Linked DNA regions of Homo sapiens. The protein of the gene in region 1 purifies or fractionates together with the protein of each later gene. This does not show direct contact. Each region holds a gene or a part of one and is shown on either strand. Other genes may lie near its edges.

Region 1 (4,024 bases):
GGGTTTCATCATGTTGGCCAGGCTGGTCTCGAACTCCCGACCTCAAGTGATCTACCTGCCTTGGCCTCCCGAAGCCCTGTGATTACAGCCATGAGCCACTGAGCCTGGTCAGCTTTTTTATTTCTAAGAGTCAGAGTCTCACAATGTCACCCAGGCTGGAGTGCAGTGGCTTGATCATGGCTCCCTGCAGCCTCCAACTCCTGGACTCAAGCCATCCTTCCCCCTCATCCACACTGGGATTACAGCTGCAAGCCACTACACCTGGCTCAATCAACTACTTCCTATGAATGTTTCACTTCTGACCTTTTATGAATCCCCTCAACTTAAAATCCAAAGGAGTCACATATTATGTAATTCCATTCATATTAAATTTCTAGAATAGGGAAATCTATAGGAACTGAAAATAGATTAGTGGTTATTTCAGGTTGATAGCTAAAGGGTAAAAGGTTTCAGAGTGATGAAAATGTTCAAAAATTGACTGTGATGGCCGGGCACAGTGGCTCACGCCTGTAATCCCAGCACTTTGGGAGGCCGAGGCGGACGGATCACGAGGTCAAGAGATCGAGACCATCCTGGCCAACTTGGTGAAACTTTGTCTCTACTAAAAATACAAAAATTAGCCGGGCATGGTGGCGCACGCCTGTAGTCCCAGCTACTCGGGAGGCTGAGGCAGGAGAATCTCTTGAACCCGGGAGGCGGAGGTTGCAGTGAGCCGAGATCCCACCACTGCACTCCAGCCTGGGCAACAGAGTGAGACTCCGTCTCACAAAAAAAACAAAACAAAACAAAAATTGACTGTGATGATAGTTGTACAACTCTGTGAATCTATTTCAAGAAACCACTGAACAGTACACTTTATTTTTTTTAATTTTCTTTTTTTTTTTTTTTTGAGATGGGGTCTTGCTCTGTCTCCCAGGCTGGAGTGCAGTGGCACAATCACAGTTCACTGCAACCTCTGCCTTCTGGGTTCAAGCGATTCTCCTGCCTCAGCCTCCTGAGTAGCTAGGATTACAGGCGTGCACCACCATGCCCAGCTAATTTTTTGTATTTGTAGTAGAGATGGGGTTTTGCCATGTTGTCCAGGCTGGTCTTGAACTCCTGACCTCAGGTGATCCACCCTCCTTGGCCTCCCAAAGTGCTGGGATTATAGGTGTGAGGCACTATGCCCACCCCTATTTTTTAAATTTTTATTTATTTTTTCTGACAGGGTCTCATTCTGTCACCCAGGCTGACGTGCAGTGCCATGATCATAGTTGGAGTACAGTGGTGCAATCACTGTAGCCTTGACCTCCTGGGCTCAAGCAATGCTCCTGCCTCAGCCTCCAGAGTAGCTAAGATGACAGGCATGTGCCACGACACTCAGCTAATTTTCTATTTTTGTAAAGAGGTCTCACTATGTTGCCCACGCTGGTCTCAAACTCCTGGGCTCAAACGATCCTTCCACCTCAGCCTCCCAGAGTGTTGGGATTACAGGCATGAGCCTCCGTGTACAGCCTGAACTGTACACTTCAAATGGGTGAACTGTATAAGTATATGAATTGTATCTCAATAAAACAGTTTTTATCATATTTATTTATTTGTTTTTGAGACGGAGTCTCACTCTGTGGCCCAGGCTGGAATGCAGTGGCACGATCTCAGCTCACTGCAACCTCCGCCTCCCGGGTTCAAGCAATTCTCCTGCCTCAGCCTCCCAAGTAGCTGAGATTACAGGCTTGGGTCAACATGCCTGGCTAATTTTTGTATTTTTAGTAGACACAGGGTTTCATCACGTTGGCCAGGCCAGTCTCAAACTCCTGACCTCAAGTGATCTGGCCTCCTTGGCCTCCCAAAGTGGTGGGTGACAGGCGTGAGCCACCGCGCCCAGCTAAAGAGATTTTTAAAAATCAAATAAAATCAAAGAGAGGTTGGATGGAAAAAAAGAAAATTAACATGTACTGAACTACACTCTATGCGCCGATGCTTTTACGATCACCCAATTTAAAACCTACACACCCTCCAAGGGAAATATTATTTTCCGTGAAAGGACACAGAGAGCATGGGAGCCTGCTGGTGGGTGTGCAGATGGTTTAAGGAATGGCAGAGGCTGCAACCGCAGTGGAGGAGCAGAAAGGCAAACAGAAGAAAGGCCCCATGAGGGGAAAATAAGATGGGTGACCCACATGTCCCAGGTGGGACAGTCCTAGTCCACACCCACCCTGCCAGTGAAATTATTAACAATGCTCCCTTCATTCTCAAGTGCCTGGAAGATGAATTATAAGATATTTATGTATGGGTTGTTGTGTGTGAAATGCACACACAAAATTACTAGAATCATGGCACCCCACGTCCTTAAAACAACCTCCAAACTCAGAGAGGTCTCTCCCTGACGCCGACCAAAAGGCAATCAAAACACCGATCTCTTAACTCAATGCTTAAGTCTGCATACTTTATTTAGCATGAAGAAAAATGGTCAAAACAATCATGCAATCCATTTCCTGTGAAATAAAAAAAAAAGTTTTAAATAAAAATTCTTCTTTTTTTTTTTTTGAGACAGAGTTTTGCTCTTGCTGCCCAGGCTGGAGTGCAGTGGCTTGATCTTGGCTCACTGCAACCTCTGCCTCCCGGGTTCAAGCGATTCTGCTGCCTCAGCCTCCTGAGTAGCTGGGACTACAGGCCCGTGCCACCATGCCCAGCTAATTCTTTGTATTTTTAGTAGAGACAGGGTTTCACCGTGTTAGCCAGGATGGTCTTAATATCCTGACCTTGTGATCCACCCGCCTTGGTCACCCAAAGTGCTGGGATTACAGGCGTGAGCCACCACTCCTGGCATGCCCAGCGAATTTTTGTACTTTTAGTAGAGACGAGGTTTCCCCATATTGGTCAGGCTGGTCTTGAACCCCTGACCTCAGGTGATCCACCTGCCTCAGCCTCCCAAAGTGCTGGGTTTACAGGCATGATCTACCACGCCTGGCCGAAAATTCTTTTACCTGATGTAAACTAGACTAGATGAGGATTATGTTTTTTTTATTTATTTATTTATTTATTTATTTATTTATTTATTTATTTTGAGACGGAGTCTCGCTCTGTTGCCCAGGCTGGAGTGCAATGGCGTGATCTCAGCTCACTACAATCTCCACCTCCCTGGTCAAGCGACTATCCTGCCTCAGCCTCCTGAGTAGTTGGGACTACAGGCGCCCGCCACCACGCCCAACTAATTTTTGTATTTTTAGTAGAGATGGGATTTTGCCATGTTGGCCAGGCTGGTCTCGATCTCTTGACCTCCTGATCCACCCGCCTCAGCCTCCCAAAGTGCTGGGATCACAGGCGTTAGCCACCGTGCCTGGCCGATTTTTTTTTTTTTCTTTTTTGAGACAAGGTCTCACTCTGTCACCCAGGCTGGAGTGCAGTGGTGCACTCTCAGCTCACTGCAACTTCCCCATCCCGGGCTCAAGCAATCCTCGTGCCTCAGCCTCCTGAGTAGCTGGGACCACAGGCACGTGCCATCATGCCCAGCTCATTTTCTGCATTTTTTTTTTTTTAATAGGAGGTTTCACCATGTTGCCCAGGCTGGTCTCAAACTCCTGACCTCAGGTGATCTGCCACCTTGGCCTCCCAAAGTGTTGGGATTACAGGTGTCAGTCACCTGCCTGGCCCCTGTGAATTCTGACATATATAAAGTTACATAGGTAAAATTAAGGTATAAAACAGTTCTGTCATCCCCAGAATATTATACCACAATAATCCCTAAACAAGCTCTGATGTCAAAAGTCTGCTTTTTTACAAAAAAGAAAATAAAAATAAAAACACAAACAAAAATAGAAATAAAAAAATTGAAAAAACCGAAGAATAAAATAATAGGCAGGATGATACCACGTGGAATTCAAAAAAAGATACTATCAGTTGGCGTCAACTATGCTACCAGTAATCATTTAAAAAACAAGTGTTTCATAATAATTATTATCATTTTTTTGAGGCAGGGTCTCACTCCGTCACCCAGGCTGGAATGCAGTGGTGCAATCACAGCTCACTGCAGCCTCTGCCTCCC
Region 2 (3,500 bases), on another chromosome or scaffold:
TGGGACTAGAGGCATGCGCCACCATGCCTGGCTAATTTTTGTATTTTTAGTAGAGACGGGGTTTCGCCAGGCTAGGCTGGTCTCGAACTCCTGACCTCAGGTGATCCACCCGCCTCGGCCTCCCAAAGTGCTGGGATTACAGGTGTGAGCCACCGCACCCGGCTGAAATTTTCTACTCTGTGATTCTTTATGGCAAATTTTCAATTTCAGGGCAGCTTCTCCTTTTCTACCTAACACACTTCTACTACTTTTACCCCACTGTCCTGTGGCTGGTATCTCAAAAGAGTTTTATATTGACCCAATGAGGGAGAGCCTACTTTGAGACACGCTTTCGCGAACAAATTTCATACAGAAGCAACGACTAAATTTCTTTATCATCATGGGTTTTAGCCTACCAGCAAAGACAATTAATTAAGTACCCTAACGAGATGAAGTACTTCTTTAAGGACAACCTCCTTTAAAAGACTTCTTCACTGCCAAAATCACAGCAGAACATATCCCTGGGTCTGAGCAAGTCCTAGAAAAATGAATCATGTCTCTAAGTTTATTTCAAATGCTGCTCTTCCCTCACACAAACCTGGAAACATGTTGGATAGCAGGAAAACAGAATAATCAGTTTGGGGGTACTTTCTCAACTTCAACCTGCACGTGTTCTCTGTCCCAGAGAAGTTCAGACCACTATAAAAACACCAATCCAAAATATGCGAGAAGATGTCCACACTGAGTTTTCAGCCCCCAAAGGCAACTAAAATGGGAACTCTATGAAGCAAAACCTCAGAAGCATCCAGAAAGAAGATGCACTAGAAACTCATTTCATATCTAATGTGATTTCCAATCTCAGACATTTGTCATTATTAAAATATTATAATCAGGTCAGGCATGGAGGCTCATGCCTGTAACCCCAGTGCTTTGGGAGCCACAAGAGGACGACTGCTTGAGGACAAGAATTCAAGACCAGCCTGGGCAACATAGTGAGATACCTGCCTCTACCAACAAAACAAAACAAAACAAAAACAAACAAAACAAAACAAAAATGAAACCATAATGATCACCACCACCACCACCGCCACTGCCTTCAAAGCAACTTATTGCAAGACTCAAATTAAGACACCCCAAATCTTGAATGGCACAGACCTGCAGCCTTTCTCAACCTGTTCAGGAGAGAAAATAAGGCCTTAACACCCCAAGAGAGTGGTTCTGAAACTGCAGTATGCACCACAATCATCTGGAGAGCTTGTAAAAAACAGATTTCTGGGCCGGGCACGGTGGCTCATGCCTCTAATCCCAGCACTTTGGGAGGCCAAGGTGAGTGGATGATGAGGTCAAGAGATCGAGACCATCCTGGCCAACATGGTGAAACTCCGTCTCTACTAAAGATACAAAAATTAGCTAGGTGTGGTGGTGCACGCCTGTAGCCCCAGCTACTTGGGAGACTGAGGCAGGAGAATCGCTTGAATCTGGGAGGCAGAGGTTGCAGTGAGCCAAGATCGTGCCACTGCACTCCAGCCTGGCGACAGAGCAAGACTCCGTCTCAAAACAAACAAAAAACAACAACCAAAAAAACCAGATTTTTGGCCCCAACCCCAGAGTTTCTTTTGTAGGTCTAAGATAGGGCCCCAGAAACTGCTCGGCTACAAGTTCCCAGATGCTCAGGGCCACACTCTTAAGAGAACCACTTCTCAAAGGTTACCACTGTAATAAATTAACTTCTCCCCTCTGCATCTAGAATGATACTAGTCACATACCATCCTGAGGAGATTTGAGAAGAGTCACTCAATCATTTTCTGTGTTCTGTAGTTCAGATGAGGGACTCCGGTTGATAAAGGCTGACCTAGAGTAATTATCTGCTAACAACCGACTTGGCTACTTAAAAGTCTCCTCTTACCCTAGAATACTCAAGCAGACTTTCCCATTGCGGTAGAAGTTGGGGTTAAACCTCACTGTGTTATTGCCCGTTGTCATCAGTTTGACCCGAGGTGGGTGGATGGGATAGTCGGGCGGACACCGAAACACGAACAGGAAGAAACCCCCTTCATAAGGAGTGTCAAATGGGCCTGTGATCAATGCATGAATCTGCAAAATAAAACCCCATCTCAAAATTGTGAGGTGATGACCCACCCCAAGCCCTCCTGGCTACCCTCCACCTACTACCCACACCAGAAGCAGAGTCCATAATCTGGTACACATGTTCTATATCCTCACCATGCAGAAGGAACATCCTGTATTCACTCATACTAATACGTAGGTTTGGAATTTTAAGAAATCTCATTACAGTGGAATGACATCTTACTCAGGGGTTACTTCTAAAGTTAGAGCCCAAGGCGAAAACTGAATCTAGTCAAAATCACTCTTGAGTATCCCCTAAAACTCTCTTAAAGCATTTTTTTTTTTTGTGCAGACCTCCCTGATCAGTGTTACATATAATGGATAAAACACCACTGTGGAAAAATATAATATGCTTATCTATAAAATATAACCCTAGCGTTTTTAATTTTGAGAAATCGACACAGATTTTGACTGAATATATGTTTGGATTTGCCCAGGCCAAACATGCATATGATGCAACCCCACCCTACATTTATGTGGCACGAAGGGAAAGTATGATGAAAGGAGACGAAGAAAGGGATTGGAGGCCACAGCCCAGTGCCAGTAACACAGCAGGGTTAGGGGGTGTGATGGATGCCTAGGGTATCTGCTTGCTTCCTCTGCAGAGGATCAAACCTATTGTGGAGGATGTGGCTCAGGCAGCACATCATGACTGAAAATGGGGAAGACTCAGGGTCCACTCAGAGCCATTAGACCAGTCCCAGAACTTTCCCCAATACTGTTTAAAAAAAAAAAAAAAAAAAAAATCAGCCGTCCTGAAAACGACACTAAATTCTCTTCCCCCTCAAGCCATAATTCTTCAACAGGATTTCCCCCCCTGAAGGGAGGAAAACCTGAACTGACTCAGTTATATTTCTTCTTCCACAAAGGCTCCTAGGCATTTAGGTCTGCTAAGCATTTGAACAGCAAAAGGAAAGGGACGTGGCAATCCAATGCCTAAGTCTATAGTTCCCACCTTGCCCTCCTGGCAAGACCCTACGTCATATTCTGGCTCTCAGTCATTTGGAATAGTAAACTCAACTGGTCTCAACATGGCATCAACTCTGGGACCCCAGGTACTAGGCTATTAACACTGGTACTTGACTGAGGACGAGATGTCCTAGGAAAAACATTTCTAACTACATAAAAAAAAAATATGAAGGGAAATCTATTCAAAACAACAAAAAAAGATACACCAACAATACAAAATCTGAATTTTTACTGTAAGAAATTTACTGTAAGAAAACTATGTGTTTCACTTAAACAGCATTAGGTTTAGGAAATATGATTTCTTTCTAACATCAGTTTAAGTGCAACTGCACTTCTGTGGGTAGAGCATTCAGTGACAGAGAAACCTAGGTATCTATGCCAGAGAAATGTGACATTATGTATTAAGCTTTCTCTCTGAGAGGAGG

The links.
Region 2: the proteins of GTF2IRD2 (region 1) and UBE2Z purify together in Homo sapiens (affinity purification with mass spectrometry; one large-scale study listed by BioGRID and IntAct). This does not show direct contact.

Annotation. Positions count from the first base shown.
Region 1 is NC_000007.14:74,841,359-74,845,382, forward strand, and holds part of GTF2IRD2 (general transcription factor II-I repeat domain-containing protein 2A), read right to left. Parts: intron 1-4,024.
Region 2 is NC_000017.11:48,911,407-48,914,906, reverse strand, and holds part of UBE2Z (ubiquitin-conjugating enzyme E2 Z), read right to left. Parts: intron 2,074-3,500; coding exon 1,886-2,073; intron 1-1,885. UniProt on the Homo sapiens protein: Catalyzes the covalent attachment of ubiquitin to other proteins. Specific substrate for UBA6, not charged with ubiquitin by UBE1. May be involved in apoptosis regulation.